Linked DNA regions of Homo sapiens: region 1 is linked to region 2. The links come from fine-mapping of genetic effects on gene expression. Tissue or cell type: whole blood. Region 2 holds a variant in brackets; the other region holds the start of a gene. All regions are shown on one strand. Distances are from middle to middle.

Region 1 (4,230 bases), 50 kb before region 2:
GTCCTCTCTAGGCCAGCAAGGGCTTGGACAAAGGTCTCTGGCCTTGGTTCCTCTGGCGGAGAATAAGCACCCTCAACTGACGCGCTGATGGAGGGGCAGGACCTGCATTAGCCGGAGCTACAGGAAAGCAGGGTACACATTGTCTCATCCTGGCTTTGTTACCACTTCTAACCCTGAGAATCTCTGGCGTGAGACTTCAAAGATCATCTGACTTGTCTCTGCCACCTTGTGCCTTTTGCTTAGTGACTTTGGGTAGGTCGCATCAAGTGCTCAGTAATCAAAGGGGTGGGGCTGGATGACCTCAGGCTACCCCTGGGCTTCCACCTCCTAATTGTCTCCAGATGGGGAGATGCCACACAACTTGGAAGTAGTAAGGTCTCCGGTGAGTCTGAAAGGCACATCTTTGCTGAAGACTTGTCACCTGCCCTCTTGAACCTTTGTTAGGGGGAATGACTCTCAGATTGGGGGGGGGGGGTCTATTTTTTGAGACAGAAAAAATTTTCAGAAGCCTAACTGGTGTTTCCCTTAGTCCCTCCTTTTGGCTAGGTTTAAAAGTACTGCATGCTAGAAAGCTTTCTCCAGGTCTACTCGCTGTTTTTTTCTGTAGTTTTCAGACCGCTCACGATGTCCTGTCCACTGGCTCAGGAGGGGGTGGCAGGAAGGGTGCCCTGGGCTTCTCCTCTGTAGAGGAACCAACCAATTTGGCTACCTGGGAGTAATGTGCAATCACATTTTTATTTTTGTCACCACCAGGGTGTCCTGTTGGACTCTCTCCTCTCATCCTCTCCCAAGGCGGCTGGTTGGTGTGGCTTTAGCAGTGGGTGCTATTATTTGGAGGTGCCTAGAGACTTAGAGTGGTGGCTGCACCATTTCGCTGGGTGGCTTGCGAATTGTCAGTCTGGTTCCTGAGAGCTCAAACTGAGATGGAAATGAGACCTGTTTTCTCTCTAGGCCGGCCGGGGCGTTCCGCACAACCCACTTGAGAGGCCCCACCGGCGTGGCCTTTAGGACGGTGCCTCTTGTCTTGTAATGGCCACCGGCCCTCCCTCGGGAGACACGCGGCCACCTGGGTGGGACGCTGCGGTGCTTACCTCCGGGACACGAGGTGGTCGCTGGGAGAGGGCTCGGAAGGCCCTGGGGGTCCTATCAGGACGCAGCACTGGGGAGACGTGGAATCTCCTCTTCTCACCCCCACAAGCCTCGCCCGCATCGTAATTCTTTTTATTTTTACTTTCGAGCCATGTAAGGCATGCAGATGGGGTAGGAGCGTTCCCGCGACACGTTGCCAGCAGCGCAGCGCCGGCCCGCTCGTGTGGCCGGAGCCCGGGGAGGGGACAGGGCACGCGCCGCCTGACCCACCTGCCCCACCGCCCACGGTCGCGGCCGCCCTGGGTCGCGGGACCCGCGCCGGTCACCCCCGCCCCGCGGGGCCCAAGAGGCGAGGCCGCGCGGCCCAGCCCCGGCCTCCGCCCTGGCTGAGTGCTGGGGCGCGCGAGGGGCGCGGGCAGGGTCCGCCCCGGCGGGTCAGTGCCCCGCGCCCCAGGCCGCTGGCGGCCAGGCCCACGTTTTCCCTTTCTCCGGCTCCCTCCGCCCTCCGCTCTGTCCCTCCCTCCGCCCTCCTCCCTCCCCGCGCTTCCCCTCCTCCTGCCTGGTCATGTGTCGCCTTTTTTTGTTTGCAGTGGAAACAATTTCTCGCCGCTCGGCGCGCCCCGGCCCGACGCGCCGCGGCGGAGGCGAGCGGGAGGCGGGACGGGGCGGGGAGAGCGGCGGGGCCGGCGGGAGGACGCGCGGCGCGCCCGGCGGACGCCGCAGGTCCCATGCCGCGCCGCGACCCCCGCGCCCCTGCCGCCCGCGCCCGCGGCCGCCCCCCGCCGCCCGCCGCCCCGGGCTCGCCGCGCCGCGCCCGCGCGTCCTTAGCGGGGCCACCGAGCGATGCCCGCCGGGCGCCCGCGAAAGTTTGTCGGCTCCTGCTGAAGGGCAGCGGCGCCCCCGCACCCCCGTGCCCCGCTCCGGCCAGGTGAGTTTGCACCCCGCTCCTGCCGGCTCCCGCGTGGGCTCGGGGGGCACCCGGGGCGGGAGGCGCGTCCGAGACGGTCCTGGAGACTACCTCGCCGCTCTGGGAAGACGAGGGACCCCGCAGGTCCTGGGGGGAGGGTCGGGTGTGGACCCCGGGAGCCCCCGAGCCGGGAAGTTGCCGGGTCCGAAGAGTTTCCTGCCCCGACGTGCGTGCTGCTTCCCGGTGCCTCGGTTTCCGAAAAGACGCCCGCAAGGAACAGAGTTGGTATTGTCTGCGGAGGACGGGGTCCCCGCCGTTCCGGGCCGGGGAGGGGGTTCCGATCAAGTGGAGACCCCAAGATGAGAAACAGGCTCCTAACAAAGATCACCCCCCGGCCAAACTGTGCAGACTTGGCACAGGCAACGAACGTCTCCGGAGACCCCCGAGGCCCGACCCCCCTCATCCCGGCCCTGTTTGAAACCCTCCTTGGGCCCTGGATAAGTTGGGGGACGGCGGGCTTTTATTGATTTGTTTTCGAGGCTCGCCGCGGTGCGGCCAATAAAAGGTTTATGACATCTGACCGGCAGTGAAGGTATGCGAGCTCCCAATTGCCCTGTATATGGGGATAAGAGCAGTTTCCCCCGTTGCCCGGCAACGCCGCTGATTGACGCGGGGTGCAGCCAATCGCCACTCCCGCAGGTCCCCTTGAAATGTTTTTGACAAGTACAGTAGACGAGAGTGAAGCGCGTGCGTGCGCGCGCGCGCGTGCTGGGTGGGCGGGGGTGACCCGGCCCCCCAAACTCGCTACTGCTCGGCTCTGGGAAGATTTCTTAACTTTTTAAAGTTCGCATCGAACATCTGTTCAGAGCTGGGCCAGTAATGTCTTTGTCAGTTATTTGGAGACCTTCTGTTTACTAGGCGAGAAACTAAGCTTTCTTGCCGCATTTTCTCCGTTAAAAAATAAAGAGGGTAACAAAACACAGCAAGTCATAAAAAAAACAAAAGAGGGTGTGTGTGTGTGTGTGTGTGTGTGTGTGTGTGTGTAGAGAAAAGTTGTAAGGAGGTCACCAGTGAATAACTATTTGCGTATCTGGTGGAGCAGCCTTGTTGGCAGCAGATTAAAAATGTTTGCTTAACTGCAACTCACATGATCCAGATTCTTTTTTTTTCCCTCTGAAACAGGAGGAAAAAAAGATTTGGCGAAATCTGTAGTTAGAGTATAATAATGGAAAACTCCTCAGCTGTGGTTTCTGGGAACTGTTTTTTTTTTTTTTTTTTTTTTTTTTTGGTTATTGTTGTTTTGTTTTGTTTTTACATGGAACTGTAGTGATCAGCAGCTCTTCACCCTGTTGGTATAAAATGCGGGATTTATAGGGATGCAGTGAGTGGTTGGAGAGTACGGGGTCCCAGCACAAAACGCACACATGATCCAAGGGTACTGAACTCCCATAACCCTCTCTTCGTGACAATGCCACTTTTTCTCCTAAAACCATATTGCTGGCAGTGTTTGTTTAAAACAAAAGGAAACATGGAGAATAGCGTGTTAGTTCCTCTGGGAAGCTACTGACAAATAAGCAAATTAAAAAGAAAGAGAGCAGCATGTTGTCATAGCAACAGTGCAATTAAATTACTTTACTGTCAGCCATGATATAATTTTCCTGTTTGGAAGCTCAGGAGACATAAAACTTTCATTTAGAGCTAAAGTTGACTTCAGTGGCTGGGTAGTTCTGTTTTATACTCTACTGTGGGCATATGCTGGTCATCAGAAAATTTTCTGATGGGATCTGAGGAAACTTTAAGAAAGACAAGTGGTGCTATAATTCGTTCATAAAGAAGTTAAAAGCAGGATCAGACCAGACTCTGTTGTATCCCCAAGCCAAAAGATGCTAGCTTGTTTTTTGTCTGAAATGTGTCAGGGTAACCTCCTTATTTGACAGAAAGAAATATTCCCTGTGAGTGAACCCAAGACGTCTGGAGCATCCTGCCTGGTCTGTACTGCAATGCCTCATGAAGTTTTCTCTCCTTAAGAGTTGGGCATCTTGGCCAGGCGCGGTGGCTCACGCCTGTAATCCCAGCACTTTGGGAGGCCGAGGCGGGTGGATCACGAGATCAAGAGATTGAGACCATCCTGGCCAACATGGTGAAACCCCGTCTTACTAAAAATACAAAAATTAACCAGTCATGGTGGCACACGCCTGTAGTCCCAGCTACTTGGGAGGCTGAGGCAGGAGAAT
Region 2 (4,230 bases):
TCATGGCTCACTGCAGCCTTGACCTCCCTGGGCTCAGGTGATCCTCCCATCTCAGCCTCCTGAGTAGCTGGGACTACAGGCGTGTACCACCAGGCCTGGCTAATTTTTTCGCATTTTTTCTAGAGATTGGGTTTCACTATGTTGCCCAGGCTGGTCTTGAACTCCTGGGCTCAAGTGATCTTTCCTCCTTGGCCTCCCAAAGTGCTGGGATTATAGGTATGAGCCACTGTGCCTGGCCAGGGATTCGGTGTTCTTTTTTTTTTTTTTTGAGACAGAGTTTCACTCTTTTTATCCAGGCTGGAGTGCAATGGGGTGATCTTGGTTCACTGCAACCTCCGCCTCCTGGGTTCAAGCGATTCTTCTGCCTCAGCCTCCCAAGTAGCTGGGATTGTAGGCATGTGCCACCATGCCTGGCTAATTTTGTATTTTTTTAGTAGAGACGGGGTTTCACCATGTTGGTCAGGCTGGTCTCGAACTCCTGACCTCAAGTGATTCACCCGCCTCGGCCTCCCAAAGTGTTGGGATTACAGGTGTGAGCCACTGTGCCCGGCCTGGGATTCGTTTTGATAGCAGAACTCAGCAGTTTCTGAGGTAGACACACACCTGCCGAGGTCAGCAGCTCCTACCTTTTGATCTCACAGGAACATAATTGGTGAGGAGCATGGGATGCTGGGATTGAGGAAGATACGATGCTTGGGTTGAGTCATTTACCTTTTAAATTCTCTACCATAGGCCTCTGGGAGACGAGGGGAGGGTTTCTGGGGCAGGAGGCCGGCTTGCTGAGCCCTGGCTCTCTGGACAGCCACTGGGACAGATAGCTCAGGCATCAGTGCCTTTTCCACGTGGTTGCTGCCACTGTTCCCAGGGGCCAGGTCAGTTGGTCTTTCTGGGTAGATTCTGTTTGTTTAATTTTTTCCTCCATCCCCCTACCCGTGAATCACAGTGTGAATTTATCCCCTGCGTCCAACCCCCGTTCTGTCTCCCTGACCCTGTGTTCCCGCTGGAGCACTGGTCTGGCAGCCTCTTACCTGCAGTTTTCCCTGGCACCCCTGTCCTCTCCCTGGCAACCTCGGGCATATCCTCTGGTTCCCGGGTGCTTTGTCCATATCTTACCCAGCGCTGACAAGAACGCTGGAGGAATCGATAACACTGACAATGTTATTTGGTCCCTGCAGCTTCTCACATGTGGGTCGGAGATGGTTTCGGATTTATCTTTGGAGCCGGGTGCCGCCACATCAGGGTGCAGTCGGTGTTAGACACCCTTTGTTGAAAGGGATCTGCTTCATGGTTGGAGTGAGTGCTTGTTCTAGAATTGAGAGGCACTGTAGAGGCAGTGTCTCCTTAAAAGTGGATGTGTTGGTTGGCCGGATGCTGTGGCTAAAAGCCAGGCTCACAACCCAGGAACTCCCAGGAAAGTTCCCTGTTGAAAATTAGGGAAGATGGGTGACTGGTGATCTCGTGGCCAATGGCCACTCCGCAAGAACAAACACCAAACAACCCAGTGTCTGTGTTTCACTGAGAGAGAAGGGCTCATGATTATTTATTAAAATAAAAAAATCATAACTGAAGCTCTCTGGCTTAGTACACACACCCTGTCACTGTTACCTGGCCAGGTACTTTGAACAACTTCCAGTTATGGAAATATGGTGATCAAATTATGTGCCAATTTGATAAGATCACATTGGAACATTTAAAAATAGATGAGTAACTACGGACAACCAGAAGATAAAGTGGCAGTAGGTGGGCCAGTTGTAATCCAACCAAGGGCATCCATGTGTCAGGCCCACGTTACCTTTATTGCCGTCCATAAAACCTGACTCGTTTGTTACTGTGTGCAGCATGGAAATCACCTTAAAGAAAGTGGAGGTACTGGAAGGAGTGCGCGCCCAGTTGCAGCCTGAAGTCAGAGCTGGCTGTCAGCTGCCCCCTCCACTTCATTCAATATGCTTAGAAATTCTTTTACTAGGCCTTGAGCTTTAAAAATGAATATTTATGTATTTAAACACATTATTTATGTAAATGCAATGAGTGGTGAATTTTATTTCCCCTCATCCCTACTAGCACTGTCAGCTTGCCTTTCAAACTTTTTTTTAAAAAAGGCACGAAGAGGGCAATTTAATGTATGTCTTTTACTTTACCATTTATCCTCTTTGTAATTTGCTTATGCAATTTCGACTTTAAGATTGTGGGTGTGATACAAACAACTGTTAGAAAAAAAGAGGAACATGCCCACGTTCCAGACAAGTTTACCACATCATTGTACATTCCTGTTTCCTATCAGGAGACAAAACTTTTCAAATGTGCATGTTTTTTTCTATAATAAAGTTTTTTTTTTTTT[C/TC]TTTTTTTGAGACGGAGTCTCGCTCTGTCGCCCAGGCTGGAGTGCAGTGGTGCAATCTCGGCTCACTGCAAACTCCGCCTCCCGGGTTCATGCCATTCTCCTGCCTCAGCCTCCCGAGTAGCTGGGACTACAGGCATCCGCCACCACACCAGGCTAATTTTTTTGTATTTTTCAGTAGAGACGGGGTTTCACCATGTTAGCCAGGATGGTCTCAATCTCCTGACCTCGTGATCCACCCGCCTCGGCCTCCCAAAGTGCTGGGATTACAGTCGTGAGCCACTGGGCTCGGCCTATAATAAAGTTATTACAGAATAACTTTATGTTAGTTATTCTAGTTACTTTATGTTTCTCTGTAATAATTATTTAACTTTCATGTTAAATTTTAAAATCTCTCCATGTGTACTTTGTGTGTACGTGAGAGTTTATGGCTTCATGCCACATAATATATTGAGTTCATTTGAGTAATAGTTTGACTCTTTGAAGTGGCATAGCATGGCAGCTATTAGAAGTATATAAAACGATCCGCTTTTTAGCTTCCTGTGTGTTTTGCATGTGTTTGAAGTTTTTTTAAATGCTTCTGTGCCTCTACCCTTTTTAGTCAGCCTATGTCATGCGATGAGGTTTCAGATGGAGAAGAAGAGTTAAACCCTTATTTGCTAAAGGCCCTCCCAAGACAGAGTGGTAAAACTAATTTGGGAGGATCCTAAGATTTAGTTGGATAAAACCGATTTAGCTAGATAGTGATTTTAAAGATGCCACCTCTTTGGCCTTCTGACTTGGAGTATGAGGGGTGTGTTTCTGTTTCCTTTTCTTTATTAGAACTTAGCAGTGTAGAGTTTGACAGTATTTCAAAGTCAATATAATTTGGATGTTTTCATGATCATTTTATGATTGATCGTTGTTAGCGTGCTAGCTCTTGACTGCTTTTGGCACTTGGGAAACAATAGTGTAGAGAGTACAAAAAAATAACTATTTTCAACCCAAACAAATACTGAGTAGATCTGTCAGCCTCGGGAGGTGACACACTGCAGATGTGTGCTTCCTGTAGCCTCCCCCCTGTGAAAATGACATTGACGTGTGGTGGGGAGAAGGAGGAAGAAGCAGGGCTCTCTCAAAATAGTGAGTAACGGAACAGAGATTCCTGCAAAGCGGAAGCTCGGGGAAATTCTGCGTTTCTTTTGTAATTCCCGCCCCCACACAACTCTGTCACAGCAGGCTTTTCCTAGAGATTAATTTGGTTTTAGGCAAATCATGGGATTATTTTGGTTTTATTTAGGTGTTGATGCAAGCAGATTATTGATTTTTCCTGCGTCCATTCAAACACGCATAAGCACACACACATACCGTCCAGCTTCTCTACTACAGAAGAAGCATTTACAAGAGTCCTTACAATTCTACCCATGGGCCTAAAAGAATTCCTTCTCCACCTGTTCCACATGCGTTCCCTTGCAGATGGAGGGGCGTTCTGAGGTATATGAGGTGGATTTCTGAAAGACCTGTGGGGCATTAAAATCATCACAGAGCTCAGGTGTCTGAATATCACATAAGTGACACACTAATAGTGATTTCCGTCTTTATAGCTTTTAGAACACATCTGTAAAATAATAGCAAGACAGGTGCAAGAGTGGAAGCCTTTTCATATCTGATATTTAGAGGACATGTCGGTGAGTTTGAAATATTCTGTGGCTGGGATTATCAGGGACTCTGTATCCAGCTCCTGATGCCAAGAACCTGGTGCTGTCTGCAGGGCGCCAGAGCCTCTCCTCCCTGCCTGTTGGTGCTGATCCCAGGAACTAGGGCTACACTGAGGCTCATGGGGCCAGGATCTTGAGAAAGAAATGATAACTTCTCTTTTCCATCTTTCCTTCTGAAAAAAAACAAAAACAAAAACA

What was found.
Region 1: it holds the start of FOXN3, and the variant in region 2 is fine-mapped to the expression of FOXN3 in whole blood (INTERVAL, PIP above 0.99).

Annotation. Positions count from the first base shown.
Region 1 is chr14:89,414,658-89,418,887 of GRCh38, reverse strand. It overlaps FOXN3 (forkhead box N3), which reads left to right and starts at 1,655. Exons shown (of 6, transcript NM_005197.4): 1 at 1,655-2,017. FOXN3-AS1 (FOXN3 antisense RNA 1) reads right to left here and starts at 1,534. Exons shown (of 2, transcript NR_036500.1): 1 at 1,092-1,534. RefSeq lists silencers at 1,274-1,563, 1,604-1,813 and enhancers at 1,509-1,803, 1,428-1,960, 1,961-2,494, 2,509-2,803.
Region 2 is chr14:89,364,369-89,368,598 of GRCh38, reverse strand. All of the region lies in intron 2 of FOXN3 (forkhead box N3), which reads left to right. FOXN3-AS3 (FOXN3 antisense RNA 3) reads right to left here. Exons shown (of 2, transcript NR_188029.1): 2 at 3,591-4,205. Among named protein-coding and RNA genes, the nearest start is that of FOXN3-AS3, 16 kb to the right of the region's middle. RefSeq lists an enhancer at 3,085-3,134. The variant C/TC (reference allele first, on the strand shown) is at 2,339.